4 linked regions of the Homo sapiens genome follow. The protein of the gene in region 2 interacts with the protein of the main gene of each other region in a biochemical or structural test. Each region holds a gene or a part of one and is shown on either strand. Other genes may lie near its edges. The genes, in order: ERG, PARP1, CHFR and CEBPA.

Region 1 (8,908 bases), on a different chromosome or scaffold from region 2:
CCTGTGTTTGTGTTTAAATAAAGATCTGTTTTGCAAAACAAAAACTTTATGAGATAATCACTTATAAACGTAGATAATTAAGAAATGGTTCAGGCTCAGCACATTGTCTGAGAGCATTGCAGTCCTGCACTGTATTTCATGGGGGAAGAAAAGCCCACAGATGGAGCCATTCTCAATCCTGCTTTCCAGGGTCACTGAGTCAGGGTGCCTGGCATGCATGGGTGCATGCACACACAGGCAGAGGGCCAGGGAGAACTGTGCTGTGTCCACAGAGGGCAGCCTGGATCACAGAGCTGACCAAGAACGGAAGCAGCAAGTTGTTTTAAAGTAGTTGCCTGTAAAGCCACTTTTCGGCAAGGACAAACACTCAGAGCATGCTCTGAAATGACTTATGCACAGCAGGGCAGCGGCATTTTGCCCCTGGCCTTCCTTCCATTCTCCCGGAATCCCCCTAAAGTAACAAGGACTGACGCAATTCGTATTTCACTTAGCCAACAGGTTGATGAAAAATCATAAATCTGTAGCTATTAAACTCATTAATCACATCCATCAAAATTCTGTGAGGAGTTAACTTTCTTCATATAACTCTTAGTCTTAATTAAGTTTCCCTCACATGTGATAGCAAACGTTCAAGAAGTGCAAATGTGCAGACGTGGCGTATATAATGCAAGCTTTATGTCTTTAAATTAATAAAATTGAGTCCTATCAGGTCGTGTTTCAATTACCATCAAACCTTCCAACCTCTGTTAATTCAAAAAAAAGTAACTTCTTTAGGCAAGTCATGGAAATAGCACTAGGGTGCCCTCAGGTCTCCACCAAGCCTTGTTAGTAACTTTCCATGTCCTGTCTGATTTTTAAGATGCTTTCCCCTGATGCTGCTGCCGGCTGCTGGCTCTCTCCACATCCTTCAATGTCAGATCTCTGTGATGATGGAAAATCCCCCACATTCCCTTTTTACACATTAAGTATCTTTCTAGGATCAGAACTTGCAACCTGGGGTTCATGTTCTCCTTAAAAGGTCCGGGGAGAGGACTGTATTTCTGTTGTAATTCTATGTATTTCTTTTTAGGCACCAGAAAGTATTATTCTGAGAAAGGACTGTAGGCTTCACTAGACTTCCCAAATTGCAGATGGCATTAAAAAAAAAGGAATCAGGAAAGTCTTTGGGAAATTAGGCTAAAACTCCTAACTGAAGCACAATCGAGTTTTCAGTGCAACAGCAGGATCCCTGCAGTCTGTAGCAAACACTGAGATGTTTGTGGGGACAGTGGGGCCGGTGAGGTTCAGCACCTCTCAATATTGTCAGATGTCACCAATGCCCAAGGGAAGCACCAAAACCAATCAGTGAATTGTCTGCAAACCATCAGCTTTGTTGCTTCCAAGTCTTTACTAGAACTCTTAAGCTGATCTTAAAATTCACAGACACTTAGAGATAAATGAACACTCTCACATAAGTTCCCAAAATTCCTTTACTTCTTCCAATTGAAACATTTTGTTCCCAATTTCAAGTTACCAAGGGAAAATGATGGTAAGAATCACAAAGACTGGATACGAATATTTAGCTTTTCATAGTGTCTCATAGGGTCTTACAAATGTTAATGCAAAAAAATAAAAACTCCACTCAAATGCAGAAAACCAACTTAAAAAATTCAGAGCATCTGATACCTAATCGACTAATTGATTTATTTACTGAAACAACAAAAAAACAGAGTGCATTGAGACTGGAAATTGCCTCTATGGGGGGCTGTTTCCTAATTCCAGTGGACAGCCATCATTTTCCCTATGCTAACTTGGGCTTTGCGCTAACGTAATTGAAACTGTAGTCAACAGACTCAGGACCTCCTTTTTCCACTCTATAAACAAGGCTGTAAAATCATCTCATTACTTTACCCAGGAAATCTAACAGAAACATGTCTTAAAGGAAGTCACCTATAAAGAGGGCCTATTTTAACAGAAGATTAAAAAAAAATTCACCTGTAGTCATTCTAAGGGTTCACTTGGGTACATACAATAAACACATAATGCAATGTAATAAAATGTTAAATCAAGCATAGTACCTTAGACAAGTGTAAACTATTATTTCCAAAAAAGTGTTCAGAAAATCACAAAATATTCAAACTTTCAAAATAGCTTCATGTATTCATAAATGTATACTTCAAATTAAACAGTATAACACATTTGGATGTTTTGCAAAATGTACCTACCTTCTAAAGGATGGTCTGTTATTTCAATGTCCTTTTTAATGCACTGAGTTTTTTGGGAAAAAAAACCACATAAGATCGTACCCAAGCTATTCAAGATTTACACAGAATATTTGATTTAACATGCATATGAATAAGGATGAAAATAAGAACAAAAAAATAACATTTTGGGTCACAAAATCAAGTAATTTCTATTCATGTAGCTATAAGTAGGGCACATTAACTCTCAATTTTATAATTCCTGTCTATAGGAGCCATATTTCAGCAGATTCCAATCCTTGAAGCCAAAGAAAGAAAAGTATAAGGTGAAAGTTCTTGGTACACAGATTTTTAATATATTATTGAACACACCTTGAGAAATAAAAGCTGAACTTCTCAAACACAGTTTCTATGGTACATATGAGTCAAATCTTCTAATACAAACATTTCAAATTATGAAAATACCAAACCAAAGAGTATTTTTGAAAATGGCTTGGCCCAATTCTGGGCAAACTTCCATTTTCTTATGCACTTTCCAACAAACTAAAAGCCTTATGAAAACACCACCAAATGCTTCTCACCTCCGTGCAGCAAAACTAAAGACATGCAACAAACACAATTTTCTTTTCCCTCCACTCAGCATCTGCTTTTGTTGCTGATTTTTCACATTTCTACAAATGTCACGAAGGCATGGTGGCCTTTAAAACAACTGAACGGACCCCCATTCAAGACTGCATGCCCCTTGACTTGTAGTCACCATTAAATTGGCTTCATTTCCAGGAATCAGGCCATATTTAGGATTGTACCTGTGCAGATTTACCTCCACATTAATCTCTACATGCTATCTACTAAAAACTTAGGCAAGGAAATGCATCAGACCAAACACCCCACAGCACAGAGAACCGACCGGCCATTGCTTTCCAATCTCCGCAAACCTAACCATTGCTGGAAGAAATCTTACTCACAGTGCACAGACAGTAGGTATTTTATTGAAGATAAACATATAGTGGAACAAACCAAATTACCCCCATTTGAGTTACGTGAGCACTCAGTTCTCAGCGTGGATGTCCCACAAATCAAGTCAACATTTGCGTCCCATTACCAGCAGCCACTTGCCGAGTATCTCTTCGCTTCCACTGGGACTGCCTGGCATCCCTGATGCTAAGGAGCCACTGAAGAGCCTCCAAATGTCTGACATTCACAAACGCATCTTTTGCTTTGACCCGACCCTTCAACCTCTCCGAGTCTGCTGCCTTTTCTCAGACACACATCCAGGCACCGTTAGGGATAGTTAGAGAATCTGAAAATTCAGAAGCGCTCCGAAAAGCCTTTCCAAAAGTAATCCACAGCACTCAACAGTGAATTTAGAAACCCCAATTTTTTTCTGAGTTTGAAGTTTTTAAGCCTTGCGGATGGTTGGAGTAGGAAAAAGGAAATTTACTAGGCAGTGCAAAGGAAATCTTGTTGTCCTCTATTGTGGCAGTGGGGGTGTTGCCCAACCCTAACTTATCTGCCTTGATAAAGGAAACCAAAGAAAAGAGTAACAAGAACAAGATTTTGTCAAATTAAAAGGAACCCTTTCCTTACCTTAATAGTGCTGGCCATAATGCGATCAAGTTTATTGATCGTTAATAAATGTTAATAATAATTATTGCTTCTCTCTGACCAGAAAGTAGTTTTGATGAGGTTGTTTAGAGCGGATGAGATTGTGCTAAGTCTGGGAAATGAAGTCAGCCAATGGCAGGAAGAGGTTTCTATTGGTCCTGGCTGTCCAGCCCAAAGAAACAGGATATTTGGGAGTGGAGAGATAAGAGACCCTGAAAACAATGTTGTTTTTCTTGATGATATGCAGCCAGGAGATTTTTTTTTTTTAATTAAAAAAAGAAAAGGCATCAATTGGGATGGGGACTGCCACAGCAGGTGTGACCGGTGTGCCGCCGTGTGACACACTGCACTGAGACCAAGGCAGGATGCAGATGTGATGGGACTCCGCATGGCTTCACACGGGCTGCAAGCACCTTGGAGCCAAGGCGTTGAGGGCACCCCACTGCCCTGGGTGTCAGCCCTTCGCAGCCCAATTCTTCGCAGAATTACTAGGACAGAGGACTTGAGCTCCTTTCTCCTAAAAGGAAACTTTGCAGGTGGAGTTTATTTCATGTTAATAGATGGCCATGTTCAGTAACAGCCATTGCCTGGCTGATTTTTAACAACCTATATTTATTCAACATTTCATATAAGTGTTCCAGAACAGTTTCATTTTCTCCTTCCAAATACCTGCACTTTTTATTTGCTCTACAACAAAGTTGTTGAAAACGCAAGGACTCTAGGCTTACAGTAAACACAAAAAATAAAGAGGAAAAATAAACCTTCCTAAGTCTTGTTTTCAAGTATTTATTAAAACCCAAATAACTGAAGTGACTACAAATGTCCCGGAATATCAGTGAGCTGGTCTCACTCTGACAGACATCCATGTTGCAGACAACAGATCCTCATAGAACTTTTGGCTACCCAGAGATGCCATGTGAGGGCCCCATTACATGTCTAAAATCCAAGCTATAAGTTCAGGGTCACAGGTCTGTTTTCTCCTCGAAGGAAGTACAGCGAATGCAGGCCTGAACATTCCTTAGAGGGTTTCAGGACTTTAATTACTCATTTTCAGGAAATTGCTTGGAAGAAACATTTTGCTTTGAATCTAGCTACAGGAACGCAGGACCCATAAAGAGGTGTGGTCTCAATAGGCGACCCCAAGAACACAATAGACTAAATCCTGAGTCATCTGACAATTCCTGGTTGCAGAGCTGGACGTTCAGTAAATGGATTTCACTCAGACTTTAGGCCGGCATGTGTCAGAGTTCTGTCCACCAGCCCAGGTCATTCTGGCTTTTATTATATACCTCTGATTTATCACCTCATGTTAGGACAAAAGAAGGAGGAGAAGGAGAAAGATAAGGGGGGAAAGGGAGAGGAAGGAGAGGAGGAGGAGGAGGGAGGGAAGAGGGCGAGAAAAAATGGAGAAGGAGAAAGGAAGGACAGAAGAGAGAGAGAAAGGAAGGAGGATGGGAGGAAGGAGGGAGGAAGGAAGGAGAAAGGGAGGGAGGGAGGGAAAGAAAGAAGGAAAAGAAAAGAAAGAGAGTATATTGTAAGAAAATCATTCTGTGGAAATCAGAACCTAAGTTCTCAGCACCTACATTATGAGGGGGTGTTGATTTCCGCTCTTTTCATCTCTGAACAATGAATAAGATGGCAGGCTGATTAAAATTCTGTTTCCCCGAAAATTTCAAAGTCCTGAGCTGTTTTATCTGGGCAGCTTCCACTAGAATTCTGGAGTGCGGAGGAGAAAAGCTCTCTCAGCTTCCCTGAGTGTCCTTGCTTTTTGTTCTCTCCTAAGAAGCATCAATGTAAAATGTTAACTGTGGCCTCCACAACACATGGCACCTGATTATGCCTTTACCAAACACCAGCTTTAAATAAGATGAACGCTTTGCTAATGAAATAGCCACGGAAGAAAATCCTGTGTGGTCCCGCCTCACCCACGCCTCGTGGTTGCTAATCCAGCCCTCAGTTGTTCCCTGCAGCAGGAAAGATCAGCATTTCTACTGGGACCTAATGCTTCAGTGATGATTTGGCCTTAACTCCCTGGTTCTTGCCTAATGCAAATCAAACTGTGAAGAGTGGGATTTCTTACCTCTCTATTTTGAAATAATTTCCAACTTACAGAAAAGCCACAAGATAATACACCAAACTCCTAATACCCTTTGCCTGGTTAACTCTGATTGTCTACTGGTGCCAATGTACATCATTTTCTCTGCTTTCTCTCACACATGCTCTCTCTCTCTCAATCTCTGTCTCTCTCTCCCATATTTATTTATGTATAACATACATGCATGCATATATCCATCATTTTCTAACTAATAAAAATATTGTTTTATAAGAGACAAATTTATTTATTGGATACTAAAAAAGAGAAAAACAGATGCTATTATTTGATCAATATTCGATCCATAAGTTTTACTGCGTCTAATTTTGGAAATGCATACAAACATAAAAAGTGATCTAATAAAAAGTTAATTTGGGGATACTGAGTGGTAAATTCTGTTCCAAAATTTTACAAAGGAAACTCCTCCTCATTTCTAATGACAAAATGTTTGATTGATTCCTGTTGTCTTCAAAGAGAATAATTCTTGATGTTTCAAATGGCATCATAGCATCCAAGCCTGGTAATCTCTGACTATTTAATGTAAAGTGTTTTAAAAAAATCTTTGGCTCTTGATAGGACAAGGCACATCTTTTTTTTTTTTTTTTTTTTTTTTGGGACGGAATCTTGCTGTCGCCCAGGCTGGAGTGCAGTGGCGCGATCTCGGCTCACTGCAAGCTCCGCCTCCCAGCTTCACGCCATTCTCCTGCCTCAGCCTCCCGAGTAGCTGGGACTGCAGGCGCCCGCCACCACACCTGGCTAATTTTTTTTGTATTTTTAGTAGAGACGGGGTTTCACCATATTAGCCAGGATGGTCTCGATCTCCTGACTTCATGATCCACCCGCCTCAGCCTCCCAAAGTGCTGGGATTAAAGACGTGAACCACCACGCCCGGCCAAGGCACATCTATTAACTAGAATATAGCAGTGCAGAAACCGTTTCCCAAATATTATCCTATGGGGAAATTATCTGAAGATATAGATATCACTCTAGCTTTCCTCACTTGTACCCCAAGTCTATGTTATTAAATGGCCTCATCCCTACACCACCCAGCAGCCTAAGAACCAGGCTGCCTTTCCCACCTGATACCTCCTCTCCCTAGGGAAATATGCCCTCCAAGCCACCACGCGGACCAAGTTAGGGGGCAATCTGGCACACGGCCCCTACCTGAGGCCCGTCCTGCCATGAGCCTATCAGGGCAGGGTCCTTTTTCACTCTCCTTGAGATGCAGTAATCACCACACTAGACCAGCACAGCCCATACAGTAGCTGTGGACAGCAGAACCTATGAATAAAGCACACATTTCCCTTGCATGCTTCTCTGCCACAAACCCATCCCCTGTGAATCTGCCAAAACCTTCCACTAGTCTCCTCACATTTTACTCCAAAGAAAGAAACAAAATAATATAACATAAATATACCATAAATTCACTGTCACAATAAAAGAAACACTAGTATTTATTTATCCTAAAATCATTTCTTCCCATTTTCTAAAGATCGAACAAGTTCTCATTCTTGTTCCCTTACTAACTTCTCTGTATGGAATATGGGGAGGAAGGTTAGGAGCTAAGAACACTCTGAATGACAGCCACATGGTTCTCAATGTAATACATGCGCAGAGCAAAGAGAGGAGATCCGTCTGAACCTCCACATCTGTGGGGACACAACAGAAGATTCACTCATGACTCATTCACGTCTTTATCCCTGCCCTATACATCCCTACAATGGAACGCCCTTCCTCCTCAAAAACATTGCAGGAAAATGATGTCGTAGATGAACACTTAGCAATATGGAAAACTGCTCTGATATTTTACCTGGTTAGTTAAAAAATCACAGTATATAGGAGAATTATATCCATAGACTCATTTTGTTAAAAATAAAAAGGCAGTTGGGGATGGCCGTGCATTCTGTTCCAAAGCATCTGTGAACCTGAGGAATAGACACCATGAGCGAAGCTAACCTTCCCGAGTTGAAAAATGAAATGCAATGGTGGCAGACATGTCCAAGGAATATTATGGGGACTCGATCCCTTTATGAATCTTGTCATAGATGAATGTGTGGAGATGTCAACTAGTTGGCAGCAGAACAGTATTGGAACGGTGGTAATACAAGGAAATAGTATCATCATATTAGAAACTTTGGAATGAGTATAAATAATGGCTGTTCAACAGAAAAACCCATGTCCCCTCTCCAAAGGGCCTGTTTCACTATATGTAAAAATTAGGTCATGTATGTTTTCATATTAGACTTTTTGTTAAATAACCTTTTTTTTTTTTTTTTTTGAGTCTCACTCTGTCGCCCAGGCTGGAGTGCAGTGGCGTGATCTCAGCTCACTGCAAGCTCCGCCTCCTGGGCTCATGCCATTCTCCTGCCTCAGCCTCCTGAGTAGCTGGGACTACAGGTGCCCGCCACCACCCTGGCTAATTTTTTGTATTTTTAGTAGAGACAGGTTTTCACCATGTTGGCCAGGATGGTCTCGATCTCTTGACCTTGTGATCCACTCGCCTCAGCCTCCCAAAGTGCTGGGATTACAGGCGTGAGCCACCACGCCCGGCCAATAACCTTTTGTAATAGTCAAAAAATAAAAAATAAATAAAAAGGCAAAGTAAAAATATTGACAGCTATATCTTATAATACCAATGGCAGAGAAGCTTTTTGTTTTTTCCCCTCTTCTTCTTTGGTTCACTTATATTTTCAAAACATAAATTTGTAATAAACATAAATTATATCCTAATATAAAAATATGTAAGTAACATGCAATGTTGTTCATTTTTGTAAATATCTGAAAAATACAGGCATGTTCTGTAAAAAGTGCAGCCCACAATACTTGTAGGTGTCAAACCTTTTAGCATGCCCAAATGCCTGTTCTTTTTTAAATGTCTACAGCAAGCATAGAGCTCTTTTTTTTTTTCATTTTATTAAGAAAACCCAGAAACGCTCAAGAGTTTCGTGGAGGCCATCTATGCGGCATTAATCCATTCAGGTGATATTAATGGCCTTTTCCTGCCAGGAACTCCAGTGGGCACTCAGGAAGC
Region 2 (8,601 bases):
CAAATTATAATCCCGAATGTTGGAGGTGGGGCCTGGTGGGAGGTCACTGGATCACCGGGACAGATTTCTCCCTTGGTGCTGTGTCATGATACTTGTGAGTTCTCCTGAGATCTGGTTGTTGAAAAATGTGTAGCACCTCCCCTTTCACTCTCTTCCTCCTGCTCCGGCCATGTCAACTGCCGGCTTCTCCTCTGCCTTCTGCCATGACAGTAACAAGGTTGGAGGACTGACACTACCCAACCTAAAGACTTACTATGAAGCCACAGCAGTCAACACAGTGTGGTACTGGCAAAAGGATACGTAGATCAGTGGGACAGAACAGGGAGCCCAGAAACAGAGCCACACAAGCACAGTCCACTGATCTTTGACAAAAAAGTAAAGGCAAAAATGGAGAAAAGATAGTCTTTTCAACAAACGGAGCTGTAACAACTGGACATCCACATGCGAAAAAAAAAAAAGAAAAAAAATAAAGGAATCTAGACACAGACCTTACACCCTTCACAAAAAGTAACCAAAATGGATAACAGACCTAAATGTAAGACACAAAACTGTTAAACTTCTAGAAGAAAATCTATATGACCTTGGGTCTGGTGATGACTTTTTACAAACACCAAAAGCCCAATCCACTAAAGAAGTAACTGATTAACTAGACTTCACAAAATTAAGAACTTCTGCTCTGCGGAAGACCAGCCACACACTGAGAAAAAATATTTTCAAAAGACATATGACAAAGGGCTGTTATCCAAAATATACCAAGAACTCTTAGGACTCAACAGTAAGAAAACAAACAATGTGATTTTAAAAAGAGCAAAACCAGGAGTTTGAGACCAGTCTGGGCAACAAGGTGGGGCCCTGTCTCTACAAAAAATTTAAAAAAATTAGCCAGGCATGGTGGTGCGCACCTGTAGTCCCAGCTACTCAAGAGGCTGAGGTGGGAGACAGAGGTCAAGGCTGCAGCGAACTGTGATCACACCACTGCACTCTAGCCTGGGCGACGGAGCAAGACAGTCTTAAAAAAAAAAAAAAAAAGTGGGGGTAGGGGCAGGCAAAAGACATTTCACCAAAGATATACAGATGGTAAATAAACGTATGAGAAGATGTTCAAGATAATTACAGTATTAGGGAAATGCAAATTAAAACAATAATAAAATACTATATATCTATTGGAATGGCCAAAATCCAAAACAATGATAACACCAAATGCTGGCAAAGATGTATAATGATACGAACTCTCATCTATTGCTGGTGGGAATGGAAAATGATTCAGCTTTTTGAAAGACAGCTTGGCAGTTTCTTACAAAACTAAATATACTCTTACCACATGATCCAGCAATTGTACTCCTTGATTACCCAAAGGAGTTGAAAACTTATGTCCCCATAAAAACCTGCACATGGTGGGTGTTTCTAGCAGCTTTGTTCATAATCACCAAAACTTGGAAGCAATCAAGATGTCCTTCAGCAGGTCAATGAATAAACAAACTGTGGTAATCCAGACAATGGAATATTATTCAGTAATAAAAAGAAATGAGCTATCAATACGACAAGACATGGAGGAATCTTTTTTTTTTTTTTTTTTTGAGATGGAGTTTCGCTCTGTTGCCAGGCTGGAGTGCAGTGGCATGATCTCGGCTCACTGCAACCTCCGCCTCCCAGTACAACCAATTCTCCTGTCTCGGCCTCCCGAGTAGCTGGGACTACAGGTGCACACCACCACACCGGCTAATTTTTGTATTTTTAATAGAGACAGGGTTTCACCATATTGGCCAGGCTGGTCTCGAACTCCTGACCTCGTAATCTGCTGGGCTCGGCCTCCCAAAGTGCTGGGATTACAGATGTGAGCCACCGTGCCCGGCTCGACATGGAGGAATCTTAAGAGCACATTGCTAGTGAGAGAAGCCAATCTGAAAAGGCTACCTTCTGTATGATTCCAACTATATTATATTCTGGAAAAGGAAAAACTATGGAGAAAGCAAAAAGATCAGTGGTTACTGGAGGTTAGAGGGGAGGGAGGAATGACTAGGCAAAGCACAGAGATTTCCCAGGCAGTGAAAGGACTCTGGAGGCTACCATAAAGGTACATGCATGTCAATGTATGTTTGTTAAAACTGACAGAATGTACAATGCAAAGAGTGAGCCCTCATGTAAACTACAGACCTCGAGGGATAACGATGTGTCAATGTGGCTCATCAGTTATAACCATGGACCACTCCGATAACGATGTGTCAATGTAGCTCATCAGCTATAACCATGGACCACTCTGGTGGCGATGTTGATTGTGGACAAAAGTCTGTGTATGTGTGGGGTGGGTAGGGCTAGCGGGTATATGGAAACTCTGTACTTTACTCAATTTTGCTGTGAACCTAAAACTGCTATAAGAAAAAAAGTCTACATACAGAAGAATGTCATGAACCTGGGAGGCGGAGCTTACGGTGAGCCGAGATCACACCACTGCACCCCAGCTTGGGTGACAGAGCGAGAATCCGTCTCCAACAACAACGAAAAAAGTTTACATATAAAAAAAGGTTAAACAGACAATGGAACAGAAATTTTTAAAAGGACCCCAAAATACAGAGATTTTGTGCATGATACAAGACACCTCTCAATGGGGGAGATGAATAAGCCAATAAACAAAGTACAAAAAATTAGCTGGGCATGGTGGCAGGCACCACGCTACTCGGGAGGCTGAGGCAGGAGAATCGCCTGAACCCGGGAGGCGGAGGTGGCAGTGAGCCAAGACCATGCCACAGCACTCCAGCCTGGGCAACAGAGTGAGACTCCATCTCGAAAACAAAACAAAAACAAAAACAACAACAAAAAAACAAAGTAGGGAAACTAGATCATCATCTGGAAAAAAATAAAACTGGAGTCACGCCTCACACCACACATCAGCACACACCGGGATAACTCTCAAATAGAGTAAACATTTAGATGTTAAAAGAAATAAGGAACCATAAAATTACACGTACTGGATGTAGTTCATCTGTATCCCCAGGGTGGGCTACCTGACAGTGGCTGCTGGTGCCACAGCCTTGTTCCCTAGCACTGTCACTGCCTCAGGGTAAGGGCCACACCCTGGCATACCCACCCTGTAGTGACCACCACAGTAACAAACACAGCACTGTCACCAACAGGCCAACTCTTTCAAAACCAGGGACTGAGAGTCCTCCCGCCACTTCCAGATCTAGAGGCAGCTCTGGCTGCAGGGCGTGACTGTGCAGAGGCCAGGAACACAGTCTGGAAGTGCAGAGAACCACAGCACCTCCAGCGAGCTAAAACCAATGAGAAACAAGAGGCAGAAAGAACCAATGGATAATGCTGCTCCCTTCCTCCTGCTCCGAGGGGCTTTTCTGAAGCTTAGTGGCAAAGGACTTGCGTGAGGGCATCCTGCATGACCAAGCCATTGGCTGTTTCTCATGAAGCCATGGCCAGCTTGACAGCGTATGGCACTGTGCTTGCCCTCCTGCCTCCCCTTCCTCCCTCTCTCTTGCTGCCCTAGGATTACCTCTCCTAATAAAGCTTTTAATAGCTTTGCTTTCTGCTCTGCTATGTCACCTGACGTGACCTGTACTAAGACATGGGAGAAGACATAAAAGGAGAAAACTGTGGAGACAGTAAAAAGAGCAGTGGTTGTCAGGAATTAGGAGGGATAAACAGGGGATTTTTAGAGCAGTGAAACTGATGCAGGGCAGGCCAGCCCTAAATTGGGGATTGGCCTGGGCGGGTCCTTGGCTTCGCTCTGGAAAGCATTTAAGAGCGAGCTCGTGGTAGAAGAAAGCAGCTTTATTGAGGCAGCAGTGTTATGGCTCTGTGACTGCTCCTGCAGAGCAGGGCTACCCCACAGGCACTGTGCTGAGAGCAGCAGCTCAAAGGCAGTTCTGAAGTCATATTTACACCCACTTTTAATTATATGCAAATTAAGGGGCAGACTATGCAGACATGTTAAGAAACGGGGTGGTAACTTTTAGGTCATCAGATTGTTGTCACAGAAAGGGGTGGTAACTTCCGGGTATTGCCATGGCAATGGTAAACTGATATGGCACACTGGTGGGTGTTTTATGGAAAGCTGCTTCGTCCCTGTCCCTGCTTTAGTTAGTCCTCGGTTTGGTTTGGTGTCTGAGCCCCACCTCCTACCTCATTCCCCTCTCAGAGATGAGCTATTCTTCCTTAATCTTAAGGGGGCTGCAGAAGGGTGCAGGTCTGAAACTACTCTGTATGATACTATAATGGCAGATGCATGTCATCATACATTTGTCCAAACCCATAGAATGTAGAGCATCAGGAGTTTCTGGACTCTGGGCAATAATGATGTGTCAGTGTAGGTTCCTCAATTATAACAAATGTACTACTCTGGTGGGAGGTGTTGACAAGGAAGAGCCTGTGTGGTGGGAGGGGGAGGGGGTACTGGAAACTCTTTGTTCTTTGCTTACTTTTGCCATGAACAAAAATAAAGTATATTAAAAACAAAACAACTTTAAAGGCTACATTCCAAGCACCTGGAAAAACAAAATACCAAATATCATGCAACAGATGATGCTGAGTCCAGGAGGTGTTGCTGAAATAACATGGGCACCATACGCTTGATCTGCACATGTGGGAGAGGGCAAGCTGGGGGAGGTTTGCTTTGCTCTCTGAGACGAGGCCCTCCTGGGAGCTTCAGGGTGGGGGCTGAATGCCCATGCTGCCCCAGTATGTACACACCTGTCACTCCTCCAGCTTCCGCTGTCTTCTTGACTTTCTGCTGGTCATCCCACCGAAGCTCAGAGAACCCATCCACCTCAACGTCAGGGTGCCGGATGGAGTGGCCCACCTTCCAGAAGCAGGAGAAGTGGTACCAGTGTGGGACTTTTCCATCAAACATGGGCGACTAGAAGGAAGAGAAACAGAGGGAAGTAAGTAAGCAGTTAACTTTTGACTTAGACCCACTAGACCTTGACCTTGACCTCGACCCCAGTCCCAGCCCCAGCAGTGGGATAGCACATGAAACTTTTGTTCTCCTATCTGTGAAAGGAGGACAGCCTCCGCTCTCACATGAAGAGCTGCAGCATCCTTCTCACGATCTTCCCCAAGGGTCAGAAGACTGTAGCCCACTGTTCTTGAGCTCATTCTCTTAGGACACCAAACACAGCCACGAGAAAGGTGGCCTTTTACCACTGAGCTCTGCCCCACGTCCCTTTTGACCACACACTGCTACATTTAGTGGTGAGCTGCCTCATGGCCTAGTGAAATGCACAGAAGACACTTGTGCAGAGTCACAATCCTGCAGCATCTGCTGGGAATGGCCAGACAACTGCTCCAGGCTTGCCTGGACTCAAAGGGCCTGTGTGCCCCAGAAAAGGGCTCTTTAAGTGCCTCTGCAGTTAAGAATAACAAGGAACAAGTCCCAGATAATGAGCAAAGCAGAGAAAGTGTGTCAGAAAAAAGTGTCAAGCTTGCAGCAGCCACACAGATGGGAGTGGAATGAATGGAGGTCTTTGAGGCAACTGTGACAGCGGATGGTTCGGGGCAGCATGCCTAGAGCTGGAGTCAGCTGCTCACTGGCCTTCTGGGGCGCAGTTTCCCAGGCGTAGGACCTGAGAAGTCTGGCCACAGGGAACACAGTTCCCCTCTCCAGGTGGTTTGCTTCCCACTAGGCCTTTCATTGTGACAGGGTCAGGTTCTGCTCCCAGGCCTCGAGCACTGTCTGGCTTTGTTTTTGAGACCGAGTCTTGCACTGAGTGCAGTGGTGCGATCTCAGCTCACTGCAACCTCTGTCTCCTGGGTTCAAGCGATTCTCCTGCCTCGGCCTCCTGAGTAGCTGGGACTACAGGCACGTGCCACCCATGCCTGGCTAATTTTTGTATTGTTAGTAGCAATGGGGCTTCACCATGTTGGCCAGGCTGGTCTCGAACTTCTGACCTCGTGACCCGCCCGCCTCGGCTTCCCGAAGTGCTGGGATTACAGGCATGAACCACTGCACCCAGTCCTGGCTTTACAGAGTGGACGGTGACAGCGATTGGGAAGAAGGGGAAGACACAGTATGTAGTGTGTGTCCCTGCTCCTTTCATAAGCCATCCTGTGTAATCCCACAATCTGCCTCTGGGTGGGAACCAGCCCTTTCATTCACAGATGGAGACAGTGGGGCTGGAAATCCTTGCCTGGGGGGTTGGGAGTCACAGAGGCAGCAAATGAATGATTTGACACTATGATTCCTCCCACCACACTCCACTGCCCGGCAGGAAGAGCTACTTAAAAATACACCAACTGTGATCTGACTAAAGTAAGGGAAGTCCCAAACATCTGCTTTTATAGAACATAAAGCTAAATGTCACACAGATGCAATAAGACTATTAAAACAGCATTAAAAGTAAATGTGCTGAATTTTTAGGATGGAGTTGCGGGGACAGGGAAAATACTCTGGAAAAGCAATGATAAGGTACCCCACTATCTCTCTCCACTGTGAGTGGCCTCTTTCTGGATGTGATGTATTAAAATGCACAGCTAAGACTATGGCAGCACAAGGACTCCTCAACATCAGCTTTCCCCTGGGTCTGGAATGCTCTCCAGCCCTGTTCAGAGCACTCCCTCAGATCTCCCAATGCTCCTTCCACAGCTCCCCTCACTAAGAACTATGCATTTGGTGATTATTTCATAAGGGCCTATCTTGCTATTCTCTAGCAACATGTCACAGAGGGCACGCAGTGTTTGCTTAGGGCTCCAAGTCAGATGGAACAAAAAAGGAAGGATGGGGAAATTCCTGCTGTAGAAGAGACAACAAATGGCATTTCTGAGAGCATACTCATGTTCCAACTCTCAAACGTTCCACCAGATCTCAATTAGGCTGCTGATACAGATCCCTAAGCATCTGGCTATCATGGAATATTTGCAATGGCCTCGACCTGGCTCTGCCTGCTTGTCTACCCCTTGTCTACCCTTCCTGTGCAATGTTCCAGTTACCCTTGTATAAAGAGCACAGGTAATGGCTATGGCACTTCTTCCTGGCTCTGCCAGGGGCCCCAGACCTGCTGCCCTTTGGTCTGGGTGCTGTCTCCCCCAACCACCGGCACAGTGCTGGACACCCTGGAGGTGCTGCCCAATGGTGCAATCACAGCACAAGCTTAGAGGACAAGAGCCTCAGCAGAAGCACCCCTGACCAAAGCAATGCTTTGCCCTAAACTCAGGACTGAGAATGATGTGGCAGAAAGGCACCAAACCAAGGTCACAAGACTATCGACTCCATTTGTTAGCTGCACAGCTGAGGCAAGGCACAGAATCTTTGGCTGTGCACCCAAGCAAAAACTGAGCACCTAACATACCAGGGTCCTCACCCAACCAGCAGCTGGTGAACTGGGTTCCCTTCTGTGCAGAACAGGCCATGCTACCTGTCCACCTAGGCCACAGAGAGAATGAACTGACCTCACTGCATGCCTCCGGGTGCTCAAACCCTCCCAGGACAGAGCAACTCAAAGGTCTACCGCCATCCTCCTCCCACCAAAATGCTGGAGGGCCCAGCTCATCCCTCCCAAGATGCCCCAGGCATGAGGGCTAAAGTGTCAGGTATCAGATACTCAGAGAACAATACTCCCATGTAAATGTAAAAGAAGGTATTTAAATTCAAGCAAGTGAAAAGGCTTCTTTCTTTTTGGCCTTCACCAGCTCAGTCTACCAGACCAACTTTAAATTCTGAATTAAAACTCTGAATCCACCCTTAATCACCATTACATAAAAATCACAGTTACTTTTAATAATAAAGAGTTTCTTTCACTATCAAGTATACCAAAGGAAAGCCCAGAATGTTGTTATTACTATTTTTTTTTTCAGACAGGGTCTGGGTCTGGGTCTGGGTCTGTCGCCCAGGCTGGAGTGCAGTGGCACTATCTCAGCTCACTGCAACCTCCACCTCCCAGGCTCAAGCAATCTTCCAGCTTCAGCCTCCGGAGTAGCTGGGACTTAACAGGCACGCACCACCACGACCCGCTAATCATTGCATTTTTTTGTAGAGACAGGTTTCACCATGTTGGCCAGGCTGGTCTCAAACTGCTGAGCTTAAGTAATCTGCCCACCCCAGCCTCCCAAAGTGCTGAGATTACAAGCATGCGCCACCAAGCCCGGCCCCAGAATGCTAAACTTGATCAGGTTCAGTTTCCTCCATCCGGCCTCCCCCACAGCTAAGCCTCCTCTAACTTCCTCCACAGCGGTGTTGTTCTAGCCTCAACACAGTCTGGACTTGGGTTTTGTTTGTCTTTCCACCAGAACACGGTACTCTGCCCACCTGTTAAGGCGCCTGGATGTCCCTTTCTCAGAATAACATTTAAAAATGCGTAATAAAAAGGCTCGCAAATGGCCAGTCACGGTGGCTCATGCCTGTAACCCTAGCACTTTGTGGGGCCGAGGTGCATGGATCGCTTGAGCTCAGGAGTTTGAGACCAGCCTGGGCAACATAGTGAGACCCCATCTCAAAAAACAAAACAAACAAAAAGGCTCGAAAAGGAAACACTGAGATAATTATCAAAACATTTGAAAGGTAATTTGGGTACAGTAACCCGTGAGCTTTTAAGCATTAAATAACAAGATCTAGTACAGCCTCTAATAACTGTGATTTTTGTAGCAATGAGAGTAAATTAT
Region 3 (5,351 bases), on a different chromosome or scaffold from region 2:
CCAGGAGTGAGTGCCGTGCGCCGTGCTGGGAGCCTGTCACTGTGAGTGCCGTGCGCCGTGCTGGGAGCCTGTCACTGTGAGTGCCGTGCGCCGTGCTGGGAGCCTGTCACTGTGAGTGCCGTGCGCCCTGCTGGGAGCCTGTCACTGTGAGTGCCGTGCGCCGTGCTGGGAGCCTGTCACTGTGAGGGCCGAGCGCCGTGCTGGGAGCCTGTCACTGTGAGGGCCGTGCGCCGTGCTGGGAGCCTGTCACTGTGAGGGCCGTGCGCCGTGCTGGGAGCCTGTCACTGTGAGGGCCGTGCGCCGTGCTGGGAGCCTGGCACTGTGAGTGCCGTGCGCCGTGCTGGGAGCCTGGCACTGTGAGGGCCGTGCGCCGTGCTGGGAGCCTGGCACTGTGAGTGCCGTGCGCCGTGCTGGGAGCCTGTCACTGTGAGTGCCGTGCGCCGTGCTGGGAGCCTGTCACTGTGAGTGCCGTGCGCCGTGCTGGGAGCCTGGCACTGTGAGTGCCGTGCGCCGTGCTGGGAGCCTGGCACTGTGAGTGCCGTGCGCCGTGCTGGGAGCCTGGCACTGTGAGTGCCGTGCGCCGTGCTGGGAGCCTGGCACTCTGAGTGCCGTGCGCCGTGCTGGGAGCCTGTCACTGTGAGTGCCGTGCGCCGTGCTGGGAGCCTGTCACTGTGAGTGCCGTGCGCCGTGCTGGGAGCCTGGCACTGTGAGTGCCGTGCGCCGTGCTGGGAGCCTATCACTGTGAGGGCCGTGCGCTGTGCTGGGAGCCTGGCACTGTGAGGGCCGTGCGCTGTGCTGGGAGCATGCATTTGTGAGACCCGCCCTGCCCAGTGCTGGCCTTGAATGTGGGTCCACTTGGGCCGCTGGATCAAAACGCCGCAGAACAGGCGGCTTAAACAACAGAAAGTATTTTCTCACAGTTCTGGGGCCTGGAACTCTGAGATCAGGGTGTCAGCGGGGCCGGTTCCTCTTTGGTCTGTCTCCTTGGCTCGTGGGCAGCATCTCCTTGAGTTCTCACGTCATCTTCTCTTCATGCGTGTTTGTGCCCTAATCTCTTCCTGCGAGGACACCAGTCCTATTGGATTAGGGCCCACACCAGTGGCCTCATTTTATCTTAATCACCTCTTTAAAGACCACACCTACTAAAACTGGAACGATATAGAGAAGATTAGCATGGCCCACGTGCAGGCATGACACCCAAATTCATGACGTGTTCCATGTCTGCAGATACAGTCACCTCTGAGGTCCTGGGATTTAGGGCTTGAACATATTGTAACACTCTGCCATCAAAGCTCGCACGCCACGGGGTTTTATAAAAATTGGGTGGTTTTGTTTGTTGTTGTTTGGCAAACCCCACATGCTGGATACCATTGACACTCCGTGGTGGGCTGAGCCATGTCCCCGTCCCGCCACCACAGATACCCGTATCCGATCACTTGAGCCTGTGATGATGTTGCCTTGCACCGTAAAAGGGGCTTTGCAGATATGGTGGAATTAAGGACCTTGAGATGAGGGGAGGATCCTGGATTAGCTTGTGGGCCCTCTGTGCAACAGTAGGAGTCGTTGTAAGAGGGAAGCAAGAGGCCGGGCGTGGTGGCTCACGCCTGTACTCCCAGCACTTTGGGAGGCTGAGGCGGGCGGATCACGAGGTCAGGAGATCGAGACCATCCTGGCTAACATGGTGAAACCCCGTCTCTACTAAAAAATACCAAAAAATTAGCCGGGCGTGGTGGTGGGTGCCTGTAGTCCCAGCTACTCGGGAGGCTGAGGCAGGAGAATGGCTTGAACCCGGGAGGCGGAGCTTGCAGTGAACCGAGATCGCACCACTGCACTCCCGCCTGGGCGACAGAGCGAGACTCTATCTCAAAAAAAAAAAAAAAAAAAAAGCAAGCAAGAAGTCAAAGGCAGGAAGAGGAGGCTTGGTGACAGAGAAGAGGTGGGAGGGATGTGCTTTGCAGAGGGAGCAAGGGCCTCCAGCCAGGAGAGGAGGGCAGGCTGTCGAAGCAGAAAAGAAAACAGATCTCCCTGCAGGGCCACCAGAAGGAACCAGCCCTGCCTGCCCCTTCATTTTGGACTTCCGAGCTCCAGAACTGCAAGAGAATAAATCTAGTTTAAGCAGCAAAGTTGGTGGTAACTTCTTAGAGCAGCCACAGGAAGCTCACTACCCCCCACACACTCATCCCGTTTGGTTTTTGTTTTCAGGAAGGGTCCAGTCTGTCTCAGAGGTGCTGTGGTTGGAGGTGGAGTGTGGGGCATGGCTGAGCACCCAACATCCGCTTCACCCTCTCCCCTGCTCCCCAGCACGTTCCTTCACCCTGTAGCTCTAGGTCTCTGTGGCAGACACTCAGCTCTAACTGCTGACCTGATGGCTCCACTTGGTGTTCAAACATCCCAGATTCATGTTGTCAAAGAGAGCTGTTTCCAGTGGGGACCCCAGGCCCACCACGTACGCCCGGCAGACCTGCCCTCTCCACTGTCAGAAGATGGCATGGCCTCCCTGTAGCTCAGGCCCAACCCCAGGAGTCATCCTGCTGGCTGTCCTCAGTGCCCCAGGCTTCTCTTCAGGGGCTTCTTGTGGCTCTGATTGTTGCCCCCTCACCTCACTGCTCTTCTCCCAGATCTGTGCGTGCATTGGTCCTCCTTGTCACGCACGTTCAGCTCAAATATTACTTCCTCAAAGGTGCCTTTGAGTACTCGTTCTCCTTGCCTTTCCCTCTCCTGGGACACTGTTCCCACCAGTACCTGCATGATTCCTTTTTTTTCTTTTCCTTTTCTTTTTTTGTTTTTGAGACAGTGTCTTGCTCTGTTGTCAGGGCTGGAGGGCAGTGGCGCAATGTCAGCTCACTGCAGCCTCCACCTCCTGGGCTCAGATGATCCTCCCACCTCAGCCTCCTGAGTAGCTGGGACTACAGGTGCACACCACCACACCCAGCTAATTTTTAGTAGAGAGCAGGGTTTCACCATGTTGCCCAGGCTGGTCTTGAACTCCTGAGTTCAAGCGATCTGCCCGCCTCTACCTCCCACAGTGCTGGGATTCCAGGCGTAAGCCGCCACGCCCAGCAACTCCGTTTCTTACTTGTTGGCTCACATTCTCCTGAGAAGTCCTCCCTCAACCATCGGCCTGAAATAGCAGCGAGCCTCCCCAGGGTTGCCTCTGCCTTTTCTTGACTCTTTCTGTCACCTTCTATGCTTGTTGTCTGGTCCCCACTAGAATATACCTTCTGTAAGAGCAGGGATTTGGGACAGTGCCTAGAATAGTACTTGCAGACAGTAGGCTACGATAAATATGAATGACGGCCCCATGCAGATGGTAGCCCCTCTCGCTCGAACGCTTCACCCAGTTTTATTTTCTTTTCATCAGTTACCGCCCTCTGAAGGTATCCACACACAAACATGAAACTGGACCAAAGCAGGGACCCCCCGCACGCAGAATAGTGCTGGGCTCGCGTAAGGCACCTCAGTGGGTCCATCAGCTGATGCATGGACAGACAAAATGGGTGTATCCAGACACTGGAGTATCGTGCAGCGAGGAAACGTGCTGAGTGTGGATGGACCTTAAACACACCATGCAAGTGAAAAGGCGTCACAGAAGGCCACATACGATATGATCCCATTTCTATGAAATGTCCAGAAGAGGCACATTCATAAAGACAGAAGGTGACTGAGTGGTTGTCGGGCTGGGTGGAGGGGATAGGGAGTGAATGCAAGAAGGATCCTTCTGAGGTAACGGAAGTATCCGGAAACTGGGTTGGAGTGATGGGTGCACAGCTCTGCACATTTACTACAGTCGCTGAACTGCACACACAACACGGGTATATTTTATTGCATAGAAATTGTATTAAAGCTGTTAAGAATTTTACTTAGATTAGCATTTTTCCCACACTGTGCCATCAACTTAGTATATGATTAGATTCATTGTTTCTAACTGTATTTAAATTTAATGTTTGTCACATTTTGCTTGCTAAATTTTTAAAATTTTAAATTACTGTGGGTACATAAAAGGTGTATATATTTATGGAGTACCTTGATATTTTAATACAGACATACAATGTATAATGATCAACTCCCAGTAACTGGGGTATCCATCACCTCAAGCCTGTATCATTTCTTTGTTAGGAACATTCCAGTTCCACTCTTTTTGTTATTTAAAAATATACAATACATTATTATTAACTATATTCACCCTCCTGTGCTATGGAATACTAGATCTTATGCTAATTAAATGTTTTCCCTATTTCTCCCATTGGCTACACCTTAGGATAGTGCAATATGAAAATCAGGAAACTGAGCTTGGTGGAGTGTTTTCTTCATTCTGTCATTTTATCACATGAGGACATTCACGTAACCACGGTCACAAAATACAGAACAGTTCCATCACCACAAAAATCTCTCTCCATCTACCCCTTTTTAGTCATCCGAACCCCACCACCACTCTATAATGCTGTCATTTTGTGACATAAGTGGACACATCGTACAGTTCATGCAGTGTAGACCTTCGGAGATGTTTTCCTCCCTGGATGTAATGCCTTGGAGCTTCGTCCAAGTTATTGCACACATCAGTGGTCAGCTCCTTTTTATTGCTGAGTAGTGTCCATGGCATGGGTGGTCCACGGTTTGTTTCACCACGTCAGAGTGGCATGGGTGGTCCATGGTTTGTTTCACCACGTCAGAGTGGCGTGGGTGGTCCACAGTTTGTTTTGCCACGTCAGAGTGGCGTGGGTGGTCCACGGTTTGTTTCACCATGTCAGAGTGGCGTGGGGGGTCCATGGTTTGTTTCACCATGTCAGAGGACATTTTGGTTGTTTCCAGTTTGGGGTCAGTAATGTACAGGCTTTTGTGTAGACATAAGTTTATTTCTCTGAGTTCAATGTCTAGGAATGCAGTTGCTGGGTCATAAAATTGTTTACTTTTTGAAGAAACTGCCCAACTATATTCCAGAGTGGGTGCACTATTGCTGTTCCCATCAGCAATGTATAAGAGATTAGTTACTCCAGAATACATTATTCCCAGCATTTCATATTGCCACTGCTGTATATTATTTCAGCTGTTCTAATAGGTGTATACTAATATCCCAAGGCAGTCTTTTTTTTTTTTTTTTTTTGAGACAGAGTCTGACTGTGTCACCCAGGCTGGAGTGCAATGGTGTGATCCCAGCTCACTGCAGCCTCCACCTCCCAGGTTCAAGCGATTCTCCTGCCTCAGCCTCCCAAGTAGTTGGTATTACAGGTACCTGCCACCATGCCCAGCTAATTTTTGTATTTTTAGTAGAAGCAGGATTTCACCATGTTAGTCAGGCTGGTCTCGAACTCCTGACCTCAGGTGATCCACCTGCTTCGGCCTCTCAAAGTGCT
Region 4 (8,513 bases), on a different chromosome or scaffold from region 2:
AAGCTGCGACCTGCCCCAGGCCTCGGGGCACGCGGCGGGGCTCTGCCTCCTCTGTTCCCAGGGTGGCGGGGCAGGCGCCGCCTCCTCACTGGGCTCGTGGCCTCTCCTCTGCCAAGGGCGGCCGTGGGTGAGGAGGCGGCCAGACACAGGACAGAGTGGGGGGCCGGAAGGGGTGCCAGCTAACCACGCAGGCAGGTAAAGCTAAGCTTCCAGAGTGTAAAAGGAATGTGTAATTTCTCGAAAATGCCCCAGCCCGCATTGGTACACACAGTAAGCCACTCAGTGAACATTCTCTCGGTACAGAGTTAAAAAAAAAAGAAAAGTGCAATTTATCTTTTACCCTCCGTGAGGGTAAAATCTGAAAAGCACCATCAGCCTCCTGGGCCTCTTTCTCCCGGGCCTTGTTAGTTCAGGGATAAGGGCTGCCCTCCCTTGCTTGGCTGTCACTGCTGCTAAGGGGGTGCCGGAGTGCCTGACCTTACAGGGTGCTCATTGGAGTTGGGGGCACACCAGCACTCAGTCCCCTGCTGGGTCTGGGATGAATGCAGTGGGGAGTGTGGATGCTGGGTGGGTTCTTGAACAGCCAGTGTGTGGGGCAGGACCAGACCCCTGTTGCAGGCCTGCCTCAGCCCCCTTTCTTGTGAGGGCTGGGGCTGGGCAGGTGTGGAGGGCTGGATGGAGGGGTCTCTCTCTTCAGGCTGCCTTCGGGCCTCGCAGGGGTAGGGTGTAGCCACATGGTCTAGGGAAAGAGGAGAGGGTTGGAGGGTCCTACCACTGGAGGCCTCTTCCTGCTGGCCGAGGGTCCTGCTGGAATCTGGAGCTGCGGTGTGTGTGAGTGGCCAGGGCTGCAGCTGTAGGTGATTTGCAAGGAAGTCTGCACAAAGGGCTCCTTGAGCCTAGGGCTGCTTAGCCAGGCCTACCCCTCAGGCAGAGGACTCCCTCTCCTCCTCCCCGGGGCAGATAAGAAGCCTCGCCAAGGCCTCAGCCCAGTAACCCCTTCAGCCCCCTCCCCTGACCCCAAGAGACTGCCTTCAGGCTCTGGACATACTCCATTTGGAGCCTTGTCCTCTGCTATTTATTTGTCTTGCCTGGGGGAAGTAAGTCACCCCCTTAGGGTAAGAGGGGCTCAGGATGGATGGAGAGCTCATGAAAGTCAGGATTGCCGCCAGGGAAAATGCTGTATTATTTACAAATGTGACCTGGCCCACAGACAACCTTGGAAGTAGCTTCTTTCTGGTTTTAAAAAGACACCGACATTGACTTTGATATGTTTATATTATAGATATAATACATAAAACATCTAGAGTGAGACTCTACGTTCTCCCCAAAAGAAGAGAACCAAGCCGTCCTTCCCTGCTCCCAGCCCCAGTGATGCGTTGGCGGGAGGCCACCTCCCTTCCCGACCAGGAGCCAGGGCCTCTGGGGGACAAGCCTTGTGGGCAGCCCAGGCCGGAGGGGCTGGGGAAAGCTGAGGGCAAAGGAGAACCCCCCTCACCTCATTGGTCCCCCAGGATCAAAAGTAATCCCAAAACCAAAAGGAAAGGGAGTCTCAGACCCTTCCCCCAGCTGCCGACGGAGAGTCTCATTTTGGCAAGTATCCGAGCAAAACCAAAACAAAACAAAAACCAAATAAAATGGTGGTTTAGCAGAGACGCGCACATTCACATTGCACAAGGCACTGCTGGGGCACAGAGGCCAGATACAAGTGTTGATATCGGCTGATAAAGCAAAATATTTGGAAAGCTTGTCATAACTCCGGTCCCTCTGGGATGGACTGATCGTGCTTCGTGTTCCTAGGCAATGCTGAAGGCATACAGTACAAACAAGGCTGAGGGTCCCAGTGGCCCTTCACCCCCCATGCCCGCCCCACAGCCAGATCTCTAGGTCTCCCTCTCCCACCAGGGGTATACATCCTCAGAGCTGACCCACGACCTAGCTTTCTGGTGTGACTCGGGGTGGGGGCTCCCACTGGTCACCTGGTGACCCCCATCGCAGTGAGTTCCGCCCCAAGGGGAAGCCCAGCCTATAGCAGGCTGGGGTGGGGTGTGTGCGGAGGGAGGTGGGAGAGGCGTGGAACTAGAGACCCTCCACCTTCATGTAGAACTAGGGGAACAACCTTAGGTTCCAAGCCCCAAGTCCCTATGTTTCCACCCCTTTCTAAGGACAGGCGTGGAGGAGCGGCTGGGGCTGGCGGGCTTGTCGGGATCTCAGCTCCCTGAGCCCTCCTCCTGCCACGGGCCTGCTCCCCTCCTTCTCTCATGGGGGTCTGCTGTAGCCTCGGGAAGGAGGCAGGAAACCTCCAAATAAAATGACAAGGCACGATTTGCTCCCCCTACTCAGTAGGCATTGGAGCGGTGAGTTTGCATTTCCAAGGCACAAGGTTATCCTAAATACTAGAGTTGCCGGGCTCCCAGCTCAGCCCCAAGAATTCTCCCCTCCTCGCAGGGAGAAGCCACCGCCTGGCCCCCTCATCTTAGACGCACCAAGTCCGGCGCAGAGGAAGGGAGGGGACACGCGGAGCAGGCCAGGCTTTCAGGAGGCACCGGAATCTCCTAGTCCTGGCTCGCACGGCTCGGGCAAGCCTCGAGATCCGGCGACCCCAAACCACTCCCTGGGTCCCCGCCGGAGGCTGGCCCAGGGCGGTCCCACAGCCGCGCGCCTCACGCGCAGTTGCCCATGGCCTTGACCAAGGAGCTCTCTGGCAGCTGGCGGAAGATGCCCCGCAGCGTGTCCAGTTCGCGGCTCAGCTGTTCCACCCGCTTGCGCAGGCGGTCATTGTCACTGGTCAGCTCCAGCACCTTCTGCTGCGTCTCCACGTTGCGCTGCTTGGCCTTGTCGCGGCTCTTGCGCACCGCGATGTTGTTGCGCTCGCGCCGCACCCGGTACTCGTTGCTGTTCTTGTCCACCGACTTCTTGGCCTTGCCCGCGCCGCTGCCGCCACTCGCGCGGAGGTCGGGGTGCGCGGCGCCCAGCCCCTTGAGCGCGCTGCCAGGGCCCGGCAGGCCGGCGGCACCGAGCGCGGGCGCGGGGTGCGGGCTGGGCACGGGCGTGGGCGGCGGCGTGGGGTGACCGGGCTGCAGGTGCATGGTGGTCTGGCCGCAGTGCGCGATCTGGAACTGCAGGTGCGGGGCGGCCAGGTGCGCGGGCGGCGGGTGCGGGTGCGGGTGCGAGGGCGGCGGCGGCGGCGGCGGCTGGTAAGGGAAGAGGCCGGCCAGCGCCAGCTGCTTGGCTTCATCCTCCTCGCGGGGCTCCTGCTTGATCACCAGCGGCCGCAGCGCCGGCGCCCCGACGCGCTCGTACAGGGGCTCCAGCCTGCCGTCCAGGTAGCCGGCGGCCGCGCAGCCGTAGCCGGGCGGGGGCCCGTGCGCTCCCCCGGGCATGACGGCGCCGCCGGGGCCCGCGGGCGCGCCCGGGTAGTCAAAGTCGCCGCCGCCGCCGCCGCCCGTGGGGCCCACGGCCGCCTTGGCCTTCTCCTGCTGCCGGCTGTGCTGGAACAGGTCGGCCAGGAACTCGTCGTTGAAGGCGGCCGGGTCGATGTAGGCGCTGATGTCGATGGACGTCTCGTGCTCGCAGATGCCGCCCAGCGGCTCCGGGGCGGCAGGTGGGGCGGGAGGCTGCGCGGGGCCCGCGCCCCGGGGAAAGCCGAAGGCGGCGCTGCTGGGCGCGTGCGGGGGGCTCTGCAGGTGGCTGCTCATCGGGGGCCGCGGCTCCGCCTCGTAGAAGTCGGCCGACTCCATGGGGGAGTTAGAGTTCTCCCGGCATGGCGAGCCTCGGCGGCCTCCAGCCTGCGCGGGGCGTCGCCGCCGCCCACCCGGAGACCCTGCTCGCCCGCGCCCGCGCACCTCCGGGTCGCGAATGGCCCGGCCCGCGCCGGCCCAGCTTTTATACCCGGCAGGCCGCGTCGCCCCCTAGAGTCCGAGGCGGCCTCTGTCCCCGGGCTGCGGCGGCGCGGCGCCTGCTGGGTCCTAGCGCGCGGCCGGCATGGGGCGGCGAACCAGCGCGGCACAGCGCCGCGCTCCCCAGGCAGGCCGCGGCGCAACGCCCACCGCCTCCAGCGCGCCCAGCAGAGCCGCGGCGCTCGCTCCAAGCTCCGCCCCCGGCCCGGCCGTCGCCCCCGCGCCCACGTGGTCGGTAGCGGGGGCCCCCTCCTCCTGCCTGCCCTAGGCGCCCGTATCCAGCCACGGCCGGGAGCCCAGGAGTATCCCGAGGCTGCACGGGGTAGGGGTGGGGGGCGGAGGGCGAGTCTTGGTCTTGAGCTGCTGGGGCGCGGATTCTCTTTCAAAGCCAGAACCAGGCCTGTCCCGGACCCGCGTCCCGGGGAGGCTGCAGCGCAGAGCAGCGGGGCTGGGGCCGGTGGGGGGCCGTTTGGGACGCGCGGAGAGGTCCTGAGCGCGGTGGCTCTGCGTCTCCTAGCTCTGATCTCCAGGCTACCCCTGTGATTCCGCGCAGAGGTACCTCTCGGAGGACGCCGGGGTCCCATGGGCGGCGCCGCGCAGGGCGCTAGGACCCCGCGGGGAGCGGAGGCGGCCTCGGCCCGGGAGCCTGGAGGACCTGGCCGGTCGATCCGCCCGGGCTGGAAAACTTTCTTTATAATTACTTCTCCAGGTCGGAGCGCGCGGCTTGCTAGGCGCGCGGGGCCGGCGCTGTTACCCGGCGTGGAGTCGCCGATTTTTTTTCCTGCGGGACCGCGGGGCCCCCCAGACTAGCGGAGCTGGACGCCGGGGCGAGCACGGGGAGGGGCGCACCGAGGGAGGAGACAAACTTAACTCTGGGGCCGGGATTCCGAGGCGGGGGCCGCAGCCCTCGAGGCCCGAAGCCACCGCTTCCTCCCCCGCCTCCCCATTCAGGTGGGCGCCAACGGCGGGAGCGAGGGTGTCCAGGCCGCCGGGCTGCCAGGTCCGAGCACGCACAGGGAGAACTCTGCCCAGTGGTTCGCCGGGCGCTGTAGTCCCCGGGATCCTAGGGACCGAGGCGGCCAGGCCCTGGGGCCCCTTGAGTGCGGCAGCTAATGCTCTCACCGCGGCGGGGGAAGGAGCTTGCCACCGAGACCCCCAGCCACGTGCGTCCCTCGCATTCTTTACCGGGGCCGGGGTGGCGGCTACGGACCGTCAGCTGGGCCCAGATGGAGTCTTGGGAGCCCTCAAGTGTCTCCTGTCCTTGCCCGCGCCGCCCCTCGCCACTGGCGCTGAGGCCTGACGCCGCCTGCGTCCCGGCTAGAGGCGCGCTTGCCTACAGGTGAGGGAAGACCCCCTTCACCGACAGTGGCCTTAGGCCTGGCAAGGCGCCACGACCCGCCCAGGAGCCCCGGAGGGGGCACAGCTAAAAACACCGCTGGAGAGCCCCGAGCTTCCACGACGATCGCAGTAAAGAAGCAGTTTCATCTGGGCAACGCACACTGCGCTTTAATCAAGTTCCTATTCAACATAGTCCCAGTGATTAATAGCCCAACTGCTTCGTTTTCGGTCCAGAGCTCATAAACAAGATATTTTTAGCTTGACGCTTTTGGACGGGAGGGAGTAAAAACCAGATACGTTAAATAAATATCCCGATGTGAGCCGGAGAGCTGCTTGCTGAGCCAAATGCAGGACCCATTCATATAGCATTCACCTGTGGAGGGAGACCTGGACGGAAATCAAAAAGCACCAAGAGCGATTTGCGTTTTTTTCTGCGGTGCTAAAACTAATGGCTTTTCCTACCTAGGAACAAAGAAACGCCACTGTACATGCACGGTTCCCGGCCTGTGGAGTTGTGGGAGGAAGGCGATGTCTGGCCTTTTTTGCACAGCTGCTGTTGCCTGCCCAGAGATCGGGAACTCTGCCCCGTAGGACTGGAAGAAACCTCAGTAATGGGAATAAGACTTTGTCCAATAGGGGGCTGATGAATGTGTGGGGGCGACAATGGCAAGGAGTGGGACTCCCGGCCCGGGGTTCGCCAACCCCAGGGGCCACAGGTCCTCCTACAATTGAACCAGAATTCACCCACCCGGGCCTGCCCTGTGCAGGGTGCCGAGAGCCCAGGGATGCATGAGAGGGTGGCTCCTGCCTCTGGGAACTGGGACAGTGGGAGAGACGGATAAGTTGTCACACAGAGGCTGCTGGGAGGAAGGAGGAGACAGAAGGAGTAGGGGATGGGACTTCATTCATTCATCAAATGCACACGAGGCACAAATGGGAATCAAGGGTGGATGTGCTGTGATGAAGAGAAGTCCTGCCCTGAACAAGGTGGCGCTGTGGAGGAGGCAGAGATCAGATTTGTCTGCGGAGGTGTTATGGACTGAACTGTGTCCCTGCCCCAAATTCCTATGTTGAAGGCCTAACCCCCATGTGACTGTATTTGGAGATAAGGCTTTTAGGAAGTCATTAAAGTGAGATGATGTCATATGGGTAGGGTCCTAATTTGATAGGATTGGTGGCCTTATCAGAAGAACAATGTCATGGGCATGCACAGAAAGGAGGTGGCCGTCTGCAAGCAGGGAAGAGGCCCCTCACCAGAACCTGAGGGTGCTGGCAGCTTGGCTTTGGCCTTGGGCATCCAGCCTCCAGAACCATGAGAAATAAATGTTTATGGTAGGTCTATGATGGCAGCCTGCTTGGACTGAACCGGCGGTGAGACAGGGCTTCATGCAGGAGCAGACCTTTGAGCTGGGCCTTGAAAGTTGAGCAGGAATTTGCTGGAAGGATAAGGGAGGAAGGCTCTTCTAGGAGGAGGGAATGGTAAGTGCAAAGGTGGAGAGCCTGCCAGTGCATGTGTTCTGGTAACAAAGAACGAGATGGTTGGCCGGCTGGAGAGTGGGGTGAGGGAGGGTGGGGCCTAGATAAGGCTGGATCCGCAGACAGGGCTGGGCTGATGGCCAAGGCCACTGCAGGTGAAGGGGGAACCCTTATCTCCCAGGCTTTTGACCTCCAGATTTTAGCAGGGGAGCTTCGTTGTCGGATTTGGGTTCCTGAGAATCTACTCTGGCCAAGACGGAGAGGGGGTGTTGACCAGATGGGAAAGGATGGAGACTTGTATTGCCCCAGTAATGAGCGGGCAGGGTAGATTAGAACAAGATGTCAGGACTTGGGGGCTGAATGCCAGGCTTCTGGCTGGGATTACCACCCCCTGACACATATAATGCCCAGGAAATTGGAGGCCCCTCTCCAAGCCCCCAGGAGGCCACTGGGGACTCATTCCAGGATACTCACCTGCCTGCTTTGTGGTTTTGGAGGGGAAGACCTTGGAGCAGTTGCGAAGATCCATCTACCATGTTCTGGTTTTTCCTTGGAAGCCTAAAAGTGTACCTCGGGATGAGGAGGAAATGGTTTTGAGGGCAAGTGGTAGGTCTCTGGCTAGGCCTGGCGGGGTTCTCAGAGGACAGGGGGTGTCTAGGGCCCTAGATAGAAGTGTCCTGCCCAAGCCCTAAAGCAGGAAATTAGCTGGGGAGTTGGGGTGAGACCCTGGGGTCGATGGAGGCACTTTCCATGGGAGAGTCCCACAGGGTAAGGGAGAGGGGGCTGATGTCTGACAGTCTCATAGACAGTTGGCTTGTGGCTGGAGAAGTGGGAGCAAAGGAGAAATCACCTTTGATTGGGAGAAGTGGCTCTGGCTCATGTGCAACTGAGACAAAGCCAGTCCTAAGAGCAGCTTGTAAATTCTTCTGTGACCACCTTTAAGGTCCTTCTTCCTGAGGCTGTGGATGGGGGTGTACACAGGCCCAGTGTGGGGGGTTGAGCGTGAGTCCCCGGGAAACGGTGGTCCTGAGTTTTGGATGCTCCAGGATGAAGCCTGATTCTGGAGTCAATCACAGCACTAACCATTTTGAGAAGACAAACAGAGCCCTAGAAATGTTTTATTTTACTTTGGTTTAACCTTCCTAATGCAAGGCCCACGAGAGAATTAGTACGTAAGTTTGGAAATCAATCAAATTCTGAAGAGCAAAAACGGAACTAACCCTTCTGATGTAGTTTTCTGACTTTATCTGAAGCTGAAATGTGTGTGTAAGATTGGTCGCTCCAAACAGGACCAATTCAGATAAGATAAAAGTCCAGAACTATGATTTCAGGCTCAGCTGAGCTCTGGCTAGGGGTACAAGTATCTAATATGGTATAGCTAATAATGTCTCAATCATTCAATAAGATACTCTCAAAGGCCTTCCTCCAACTAGACAAACAAAACAAAATAAAAACACTAGTTACTTTTTGTTACAAATGGATTCATAAACGGTTTTATACTGATTCATTTTAGGCTTTAGATCTTGACATGTAAAGCATATGAACTCAACGCATAATCAACCCAAAGTCCAGTGTTTCTTTTTCTTTCTTCTTTTTTTTTTCGAGACAGGGTCTCACTCTGTTGCCCAGGCTGGAGAGCAGTGGTTGGATCTCAGCTCAATGCAACCTCCGCCTCCCAGGCTCAAGTGATCCTCCCACATCGGCCTCCTGGGTAGCTGGGACTACAGGCATGCACCACCATGCCTGGCTAATTTTTTGTATAGATGGGGTTTCACCACGCAGCCCAGGCTGGTCTCGAACTCC

The links.
Region 1: the proteins of PARP1 (region 2) and ERG form a complex in vitro, tested with the Homo sapiens proteins (2 studies listed by BioGRID and IntAct).
Region 3: of the proteins of PARP1 (region 2) and CHFR, one has a biochemical effect on the other in vitro, tested with the Homo sapiens proteins (2 studies listed by BioGRID).
Region 4: the proteins of PARP1 (region 2) and CEBPA form a complex in vitro, tested with the Homo sapiens proteins (2 studies listed by BioGRID, with this or other methods).

Annotation. Positions count from the first base shown.
Region 1 is NC_000021.9:38,494,596-38,503,503, forward strand, and holds the start of ERG (transcriptional regulator ERG), read right to left. Parts: upstream 3,883-8,908; 5' UTR 3,786-3,882; coding exon 3,768-3,785; intron 1-3,767. UniProt on the Homo sapiens protein: Transcriptional regulator. May participate in transcriptional regulation through the recruitment of SETDB1 histone methyltransferase and subsequent modification of local chromatin structure.
Region 2 is NC_000001.11:226,397,516-226,406,116, forward strand, and holds part of PARP1 (poly [ADP-ribose] polymerase 1), read right to left. Parts: intron 4,865-8,601; coding exon 4,699-4,864; intron 1-4,698. UniProt on the Homo sapiens protein: Poly-ADP-ribosyltransferase that mediates poly-ADP-ribosylation of proteins and plays a key role in DNA repair.
Region 3 is NC_000012.12:132,831,248-132,836,598, reverse strand, and holds the end of CHFR (E3 ubiquitin-protein ligase CHFR), read left to right. Parts: 3' UTR 1-4,243; downstream 4,244-5,351. UniProt on the Homo sapiens protein: E3 ubiquitin-protein ligase that functions in the antephase checkpoint by actively delaying passage into mitosis in response to microtubule poisons.
Region 4 is NC_000019.10:33,298,678-33,307,190, forward strand, and holds CEBPA (CCAAT/enhancer-binding protein alpha), read right to left. Parts: upstream 3,858-8,513; 5' UTR 3,843-3,857; coding exon of another isoform or gene 3,738-3,842; coding exon 2,661-3,737; 3' UTR 1,257-2,660; downstream 1-1,256. UniProt on the Homo sapiens protein: Transcription factor that coordinates proliferation arrest and the differentiation of myeloid progenitors, adipocytes, hepatocytes, and cells of the lung and the placenta.